Linked DNA regions of Homo sapiens. The protein of the gene in region 2 interacts with the protein of the main gene of each other region in a pairwise test. Each region holds a gene or a part of one and is shown on either strand. Other genes may lie near its edges.

Region 1 (5,283 bases), on a different chromosome or scaffold from region 2:
TAGCTAGTTGAGGTACTCATAAAGAACAAGAATAAGCCAACACTTGAAATGCAGAAAACTCAGACTGATTTTTCAATTAATGGACTAATAATCATCTAGGGTTAATGAAGGAAGTTACTGAATTCTGTTGAGTTGCCCAAATAAAAATGAACAATATCCCCCAAATAAGTATTTCCAAAAGAAAATCACCAGTCATCAACATTTATAAGAAAACATTTTGAAGCCTTTATTTACAAAAGCTTTAAAAACAAATAATACCCTCTGTTTTGCAAATAATGTTTTGTTTAAAAAGGACCACCCAGTTACAGCACTGTAATATCATGAATAAAGAATGTACAAGGGAGACAAACCAATGTGACTAACATTTGGAGATTTGCTAATATTACTGATTGAAGTGTAGGTAACACACATTATAACTTGTAGTCCATCATTTCGGGGTAGAGTTAATGATTACCGTAAAGTCTTCCTACACATGCTCTGGTCTGGTCACATATTCTGCATGGCTAAGTATTTCACAGTCTCTTTTGTCAATATATATAAAATAGATTGCAAAGATATACACAAAAAAATAAGCATTACACTCCTCAGGTAATTTTATCAGCTATATATATATATATGAGAATATATATATATTTTGTTGTTTTGTACCAAATCTCTCCATTATTTACCTTTGTAGCAACTATGAAAGCACAATTTTTGTCTTCTAATTTAATTTGGTACAAAATATACCTAAAGACTTATCTTTGGATTTTTAATAAAATTGATTTGTGTAACCAACAAATCAAGAGCATCATAAGAATGGCTACAAAATTTAAAAAAAAAAAAAGGGTAAATGGTGATGGAATAAAAATAAGCAGATCAAGGGAAGTGTGCTATCATAAAATAACTGTAGCTTCAACATCTTGAGTACCAGTTTCCTGGCAGATAGTAAACATCCAATCACAAGGGATTTTTCCTGAAGGGTGTAAAGCTGGTTTGAAAATTCTTCAGTCACAGAGCAGCCTACACATGCCAATTAGAAACTGACAGACACTAGATGTGCTTGGAAGATTAAACACTACGTACAGAAACAGCAGTTACTAAGCTCCTCAGTAGTTTCTTGTCTTTTTTAAGTTTCGCTGAATCGACAGTTTGCACAACGTGCTATATTCTGTGGGTCAAAACCAAGTAAATACTGTGTAAAGTTGGCAGATTTTTCCAGCTAAGATCAAGAAAAAACAAATTTTCTGATAAAACAGGTTTAGAGTCAGAAACACTCTCTAAAGTGCAAAACTGATGGTCCACGATCTCAAATAGCTAAAACTCCTGCAGAATGGAAGGGAGAGACGTGAAACAGGGAAATAAATTACAGTCAGTGCTAGTTAATTTAGGAAAAGGGAAAAATAAACCAAACTCAAGTCGGTAAAGTTTATCAAAATATTCAATGATGTAGCTTTCCCCACTCTCTGTCACACACGCTTGCTAACAAGTATATTAAATTAAGGCCAAATTTAACCTGAATGCGTTTTTTTTTTTCTTTTTATTAAGATCTGAGATAGGAACGGTCATACTTAGTACTGAAAGGCAGACAATAAAATGGGCCATGAAAGGGGGGGGAAAGGTACTGTCTATTGTTCGAGGGATTCAACCAGAGATAAAACCTATATACAAGCATGTGTGTAGCTCGAAATAAAAATAAAAGGACTATTTCATGTCATGACTGCTTGTTGGCTTCCTCTTCATATGCATTCCCTGTGCCATTCTGTACATAGGATGAACCAGAACCAAGGCCATACAAATGACCACAATATTTGGCATCATCAATATGATCTTCAAAGAACATCTAAAAAGGAATTTTGAAGAAAAAAAAAAGATAATTTTAACCAAAAGGAACCACTTGTAATTTATATTTCAGCAATGTAAGTACTGACTGTTCACTGACAATAATGATGGCTCTTTTCTATGGTGTTCCTTTGAGGCTACGCATTTCAGTTCAATGAGTAAGACTAATGTCCTCAAAAGTACAGAGCTCAGAAACCAAAGAAAGAGACTACAAAAAAAGTGTATAAATGCATGTCTTTTCCATTTAGACCATTTTTATAAGAATTTTTCATCATGGAAAAATAACTATTCCATTAATTTAACAATACTCAAGAATGAAGAAAGCCAATGATGGTGGGGGAAAAAAAGTTTAGGTTCATAAACTGTCTTAAATCTGTATGCAAGGCTGAGCTGGCTATAAATGATCAAACCATAAAGTCATGGACAGTAAAATCCAAACATTCACACTCTATTACTGTCCTTGAAGAAGCCAAGAAAAATAAAGATAAATTAGTGCCAGAAATCCACCTTTAGTTAAATAAACCATTAAGACATTTTTAAAATGCAAAGCTAAAAAATCCAAAAGGTTGTTTCAATTATCTAATGAAACAATTGGAAGGAGTCCAAAACAAAATATTTACGTGTCATGAATGGATAGTCCAAATCACTTCTGAATCAACAACACTACTTAGCAAAACAGCTTTAATGCTTTCTATTATCAATACATTGCTACAAAAAGTTTTAAATTCTCAGTCTCAATTTAATGTCTAAGAGAAAATATACTCAAATCCACAGCGAATTTTTCCAAAAGGGAAAACTTATAGTCAAGAAAAACCTCACTTGTTTTTTGCACAACCAATTTTCCTGTTTACCTATAGCTAGGTGTATCTGTGCACATCACTTAATTACTTAGGAGTAGATAATGGGTTCATTTAGTTTCATTCTTCCATCCCTAACACTTTATACTCAAGGAACTGATCTCTGCCTTTTGCCGTTTAAGGAGGGTTTTCCTAATATGGTTTCTGATGCAACTACTACGTTGGATTTATTTGATCCCTTCGGAATTCAACCCCCCTTTTAAGACTCAATGCAGTAAAAGAGCCTGAGTTCTTCTCTATAAAATCTTCAAAGCACTGAAGAATGACATGAGCAAATAATATATTTATCACCAGTTTAAACCTTAAAAGGGGTCATGCTAGAATAAACCTAATATAAAGATTCCTTGCCTTGTAGGAGGAGCACCAATGGGAGTCAGAAAAGAACTCTGGAGTTCTCCCACTAGTAATGTGTTTAATCATGGAAGTTATTAGCCTGTTTTCTCACCTGAGAAATAATATGGTTGGACCTACATGACTTCTCAGGTAGTTTATGTTTTAAAATTGTTGGTTCTATGATGAACATGTTCTCCCAGTTCCTTCTGAACTACATTTCAAGATGACTTATTTTTGAATACTTTTAAGTGTGGTGGATGTGACTCATATGGTATCTCTAATTATATCTTTACTTAGTAGGTACTTGTTGCCCAAAATCTTTGGCCACAAGATTTTTAATGTTCTCAACCTAACAACCAACTGAGAAAAAGGCAGTGATGTCTTCATACTTCTCTCATTTTGAAAAAGGCCATTCCTGTGAGCAATGAATCAGATCCTGCCTGATGTTGTGGTCCTATCCGTTCCAGCTCTAACTGTTCTGCCACCTCCTGTAATCCACCCTAGAAAAAATAAAAAATTGCTTGTCAAGAAGAAAAATCTTACAAGGCCTAAATTCACAAATTATAAACTTAGACGCTGACCAAAATAAAAATAAACTTTAGTATGTAAAGGTGAATCTTATAAAGATTGGGGGGAAGAAACAGAGAATGTGAATTACTAATGTATTTGTTGAATGCGGAAAAAGTATCATTTAATAGAAAACAAGATCCTAATTGGGAAAATGTATTTTCATCATGTTTTAGGGCATATGACAGGTAAATACTCTCCTAGATATGGGAAGGAAGCAGACCACATATAGGGTAATATTTATCAAGTACACTCATAGTCTATCAATCCAGTAATAATTATAAAACTGAAAAGCTAGTATAACACCATTTTTTTCATATTTTCTTAAACTTCCCACCATCCATTTGTAGTTTTCACTTAATTTTTACAAAACAAAGCCATTATGAATAATCATTAAGAGTATGCTAAATGCTTCACTATGGTTTTCTTAGTTAAGACGAGTATATGCACACAACTCCTTAGAGTGGTCTGCTATAATCCACCTATGTTAATACTCCTAAGATTAAAAAAGAAAGATGAGAGTGGAAAGAGTGGAAAGAAAGAAAGAGAAAGACAGTAACAGAAGGAAAGAAAGTGGGAGGACAGGCAAGGAGAGTAAAGGGAGGGGAGAATAAGTAGAGCGTGAAGGAAAGAAACACCAACAACAAAACAAAAATTCTTCTCTAACTTGTTAAGGCCTCCACCGGCAAAATGGCCCTTCTGTGCATCACAGCTTGAAACAAGGCTTTGCACAGCAGTTGCTTCTGCGCTAAAAATAGCACGAGGATTAGGTATCGTTAGCAGCTGCTTAGGAGAACAGAACTAGAACTGAATAGAACAGCATGGCTGACTATAGGTCAAAAAGCACCTTTGTCGTTAACCTGAATTTTAACACAGCAGCTTACTCAGGACACATTCAGAATATCTGTACTTAGAAACTTCCCAGTAACAACCACATGATGAGCAATAATTTGGTTCCCTGTTCCTGAAAACTATCATTATACAGACATGTCAATTAAAAAAAAAGTCAGATGAAAACATGTAGGCCTCAGCATGCAGTGCTTTCACAGGGTGGGCTGAATTTCTCAAGCAAGGGATACCCTACTGCAAGTTCACTTCCTGGAAGTCCCCTCAAATTACACAGAAGTCTACTGCTACAAACATAAAATAATCTTTCTTGAAAATTTCTCTAGTCATATGCTGACCATATCATGTATTAAAGGTAAACACTGGCCAAAAGAAAGCTTCTCATCTTCAGTTATCTGTTAAGACCAGCGTGACCAACACGGTAAAACCCCGACTCTACTAAAAATACGAAATTTAGCTGGGTGTGGTGATGGACACCTGTTAATTCCAGCTACACAGGAGGCTGAGGCAGGAGAATCACTTGAACCCGGGAGGCGGAGGTTGCAGTGAGCCGAGACCACGCCACTGCACTCCAGCCTGGGCGACAAGAGCAAGGCTCCGTCTCAAAAACAAAAAAAGAATTAATGTTTAGAATTTAAAAATACATGTTATGCAGCGTCAAAATGTTACTACTATCTAGGCAGGACCTACACATTTCCCATAGTACTTAACTGTAACAAGCTGACATCTTTTGGCCACAGAAAAATCTTTTAGCTATATAGTTTAATCCTAGGAGCATTATCCTATCACTAGAACTGACAAAATAATTTCTAGCCAAGATAAGCCAAAAGGAAAGAAAAACTTTTGCCACACTACTAAA
Region 2 (4,181 bases):
CAGGGCCCCTCCACCTCCTGCTGTCTCTGAATGCCAGGCCCTGGGGAGGCCCTGAGGATAGAGGAGGAGGCCTGGCCGTGCCTTTCTGGAGTTCACAGACCCCTAAAGACAGGAGGCAGGGATGGCGTCGTAGGCCTGGAGAGCGCCTGGGGGGCGGGAGGGCCTGAGGCTGTGCTTAAGGCCCAGAGGTCCTGGAGCAGGGCATGTCTTGTCCTGAGGCTTAGGCAGGGCCCCCAGGGGAGTTGGGGCAGGAGGTGGGGAGGACAGGATCGTGGAGGCTTCGCATGTCATGGTGTCTGTTGGTTTTTAGGCTTTCTTGGGAAGTCTGGTGTTTCCTATGTAGTTTGGGGACTAGGCCACACCTCTCCCTCATGCTTGTCACCACTGCTACACCTTGTCTGCCCACTTTCTCTCCTTCCCGCCCCTGGAGGTGAGACCCTCACCTCTCTCGTGAGCATGCTGCCTCATGTCTTCCGTGCCGTCGTTCTGTGGCTGGGTGACTGTCCCTCAGGCCGCCAACCCTAGTTGGCTCTCACAGCAACTTCCAGTGCTCCTGGACGGGGACTTCCTAAGCAGCATGGGGGCCACACGGGCCGGCCACGCACACTGGCCTGGGTCCGCATTCCCTATTTCAGGCTGTTGTCTCGGGTCAGATCTCCGGAAGCGGCAGGAGCGCTGGGTCTCCTGGTCGTGGCCGGGCAGCGTCTTTCTTCTTCAGGGTCTGGATGCCACTTCCCGCCTCCTCCCTGTGCCCAGTGGAAGGAGAAACATCCTAGAGGGTGGAGACTGCCCTGTTTTTCTTTTGCCATTGAGTCCCAGTGTGACTCAAGCACGAGGCCACCTTTCTCTGCCAGAGGACAGAAAGCTTCAGTGACTGGCCCAGGGTCACACAGTTCTGCCGCCCAGCCCAGCAGCCTGAGCCAGCAGTCAGGATGGGGTGGGGACACTCCGTCTCTCTTGAGACCCCACTCAGAGAATGGGGCTGACACTGTAGGAGAAATATAAGCAGGACTCCTGCTGGCTGCTCCCCTCCTGCATGAGGCATGTTAGAGGGACTGGGACCGCCAGCCCCCAGCTCCCATGCCGGGCCTCGGCCCAGTCTCAGCTCCTGTTTGGGAGGGGGGGCAGAGGGGCAGGGGGGCAGAAGTTGAGTCTGGGAGCTGGGGCAGGGCACAGGCTCTAGGGTCCAGCTGTCCTCCTCTCCCCTCCCCTGCTGGCCACTCCTGCTGCCGTCTCCACAGCTCTGGAATGATGAAGTGGACAAGGTAAGTTGGGGCCTGGGGGGCTGGGCTCGAGGAAGAAGGGGTGGCGGGGTGCAGGCACACTTGCTGCTGTGGGGTCTGATCTGTTTCTCACTCTGCCCCACACCCACTGGGGAGGGGTTACTGCTTTCCCTCCCTGGGCCTCAGTTTCCCCTCTGTGGGGAAATGTTTTCTCCACAGTACCCTGTAGCACACAGTAGGCCCTCAGGATGCACTTGCTGGGTGGATTTCTCCGATGGGTGATGGAGGAAGGGTCTGTCACTGCAGCTGCCTGTGGGGTCCTGAGTGGGGCTCTAGCTTCTCTGGGGTTGGGGCTCCAGGTGTGAAGTCAGGCATAGACCCAGAAGGCTCTCTGTGTTCCCAGGGGAAAGGGACAGGCGGCTCCCAGGTAGGCTCCAGGAGAAGACTGCGGGGAAGCTGGTGGGTGGTGTGTGGGTGCTCATGGCTGCCCTGCCCTGCCCAGGCCGAGCAGGAGCTCCGCGTGGCCCAGACAGAGTTTGACCGGCAAGCAGAAGTGACCCGTCTCTTGCTGGAGGGAATCAGTAGCACTCACGTGAGTCCCACTGCCCACCCTCACTAAACCTAACCCTCAGCAGGCACCAGGTGTGCCTGAACCACAAGGTCAGCAGGGCTGCCCCAGAATGGCCCTCACAGAGCAAGTCCCACCGGGGAGGGTGTGGGCGCAGGGGCAGGGCACCCTGGAATGCCGGAGCAAGGTCTGGTAGAGGACGGGGATGGGGACGGAATTTTTTGTTCTGAGGGCGGGAGGTTAGAAGTCAGCCTCTGGCCTCTTCCCCGCAGGTGAACCACCTGCGCTGCCTCCACGAGTTCGTCAAGTCTCAGACAACCTACTACGCACAGTGCTACCGCCACATGCTGGACTTGCAGAAGCAGCTGGGCAGGTGCGGGGCCAGCACTGCTGAACCCACTGGGGCCCCCTGGCTCCCATACCCTGTCCGTGGGCAGCATGAGCTCCTCTGGGCAAGTCCTGTGACACAAAGCTGGGTTGGAGGGCTCTGCTGGAACCCACTCTGGGTGCGGGCATCTCATGTGTATGAGGGTGGAGTGGCTGGCCTTACTGACGGCCAAGTCCCCTGGAGCCCCTGAGGGTTTCTAGGGAATGCCTGGGTGGGGAGGATGGCAGGGACCAGGGGGTGGGGCCATCTCACCCTTCCCTTGCTTTGCTTTTCCCTTTGTGCTGCCAGCTCCCAGGGTGCCATGTGAGTAGCCGGGGCTGGAGTGGGGCTCCTGGGGCTGGGGAGGGGAGTTTGCCTCTGGGGTCCCTTCTGGGACTCCCACCTGCTAAGATGTATCCCTCCTCTCCAGATTTCCCGGCACCTTCGTGGGCACCACAGAGCCCGCCTCCCCACCCCTGAGCAGCACCTCACCCACCACTGCTGCGGCCACTATGCCTGTGGTGCCCTCTGTGGCCAGCCTGGCCCCTCCGGGGGAGGCCTCGCTCTGCCTGGAAGAGGTGGCCCCCCCTGCCAGTGGGACCCGCAAAGCTCGGGTGCTCTATGACTACGAGGCAGCCGACAGCAGTGAGCTGGCCCTGCTGGCTGATGAGGTGGGCCCGGTGCCGCAAGGTGGGGCAGGAATGGGCTGGGTGAGGAGCAGCCTGGGCACTGGGATCAGGCACATGGGGCCTGGAGGGGCCCTGTTGGCAAAGTGGGGACCAGCAGGTTAAAGAGGGCATATCCAGCTCTGAGGAAAGGATCCTTGCTCTGCTGGGTCTCTGGAGCAAGTGAGATGAGCGCCAGCCACTGAAGGTGTAGCACATGCCACGGGCCATGGGGAGGTGGCAGCTCTGTCCCCACTTAGTCCTGGGGCCAGTTCCACCCTTGGCCAGGCCATGACCGTCCTCTACTGCCATCTCTGCAGCTCATCACTGTCTACAGCCTGCCTGGCATGGACCCTGACTGGCTCATTGGCGAGAGAGGCAACAAGAAGGGCAAGGTCCCTGTCACCTACTTGGAACTGCTCAGCTAGGCAGGTGCCCCCATCCCCCCCGCATTCTGGCCTAGGCAGGAGAGGATGGGCGCAGCCCTGCCACTTAACTTGTTTGTTGGTGACACAGTTGTTCAGAGTGGGGAGAATTCACCCCATTCTGTCCCTGCCCCTAGTCACCTAGCTGTGAGGGTGCCTGAGGCTGAATGGCTCCACCCCTCCCCCAGCCCTGCTTCTGACCTGTGGCTCTGGAGCCCCTGCCCCTGCCTGCATCCCCGAGCACCCCACCCTCCAGGCTCCACTAAGGAGGGAGGGGCTGTCTGCAGCAGCTGCACTCAGCACCTAGGCCAGGGTGGGGCCGCCGCAGATGGGCTCAGGAAGCCCCAGGTGCACTCAGCGAGAGCCCTGCCTTTCAGTTGCCAAAAGCTGCATCAGGGGAATGCGGCAAGGCACACAGGGCTCTGGCAGCCCCTGGGGACTGGGCGCTGCCCCTGGGAGGGGAGAGCCTGGCCAGGGCTGGTGTTGGGCCCGGAGCAGCATCTTCCGGTGCTATCCTCCCCTCCCACCCCTCACAGCTCAAGCCAAGTCCAGCGGCCGCAGTCTTCACCTCTCCACACTCACTTTTTATCTGGTGTTTTTACTTCTGCCTGCGTTTGCTCTCTAGCCAATAAACCGTCCTTGTGTGCGAGTCACCTGGGCTCCTGTCAGGGCCTGGCCCTGAGGGTGGTAAAGGGAAAGGTAGACTCACCCTCTGCCCCACTCTTCCACAGAGTGAGCAGGGGCCCTGTGGCTGCCCCGGCCCCCAGCTCTCTAGTTGGGAAGAAGTGCAGCCCTCCCTGTCTTCTGCGGGGCCTGTGCCTCTCAGAGGGCAGTGCTGTTCCTGGACATGAAGCCGCACAAGGAACGTTTTATTCCTAAGAAAAAGTTTCCTAAATTTGGATTGTGGAGCGGACTGTAGAATGCGTCTGACAG

Evidence for each region.
Region 1: the proteins of SH3GLB2 (region 2) and CNOT7 interact in a two-hybrid assay, tested with the Homo sapiens proteins (one large-scale study listed by BioGRID).

Annotation. Positions count from the first base shown.
Region 1 is NC_000008.11:17,229,027-17,234,309, forward strand, and holds part of CNOT7 (CCR4-NOT transcription complex subunit 7), read right to left. Parts: intron 3,512-5,283; coding exon 3,401-3,511; coding exon of another isoform or gene 3,395-3,400; exon of another isoform or gene 2,486-3,394; intron 1,823-2,485; coding exon 1,694-1,822; 3' UTR 1,151-1,693; coding exon of another isoform or gene 1,109-1,150; 3' UTR 1-1,108. UniProt on the Homo sapiens protein: Has 3'-5' poly(A) exoribonuclease activity for synthetic poly(A) RNA substrate. Its function seems to be partially redundant with that of CNOT8.
Region 2 is NC_000009.12:129,007,754-129,011,934, reverse strand, and holds part of SH3GLB2 (endophilin-B2), read left to right. Parts: intron 1-1,169; coding exon of another isoform or gene 1,170-1,241; coding exon 1,242-1,265; intron 1,266-1,725; coding exon 1,726-1,815; intron 1,816-2,063; coding exon 2,064-2,164; intron 2,165-2,467; coding exon of another isoform or gene 2,468-2,482; intron 2,483-2,588; coding exon 2,589-2,829; intron 2,830-3,143; coding exon 3,144-3,251; coding exon of another isoform or gene 3,252-3,393; 3' UTR 3,394-4,181.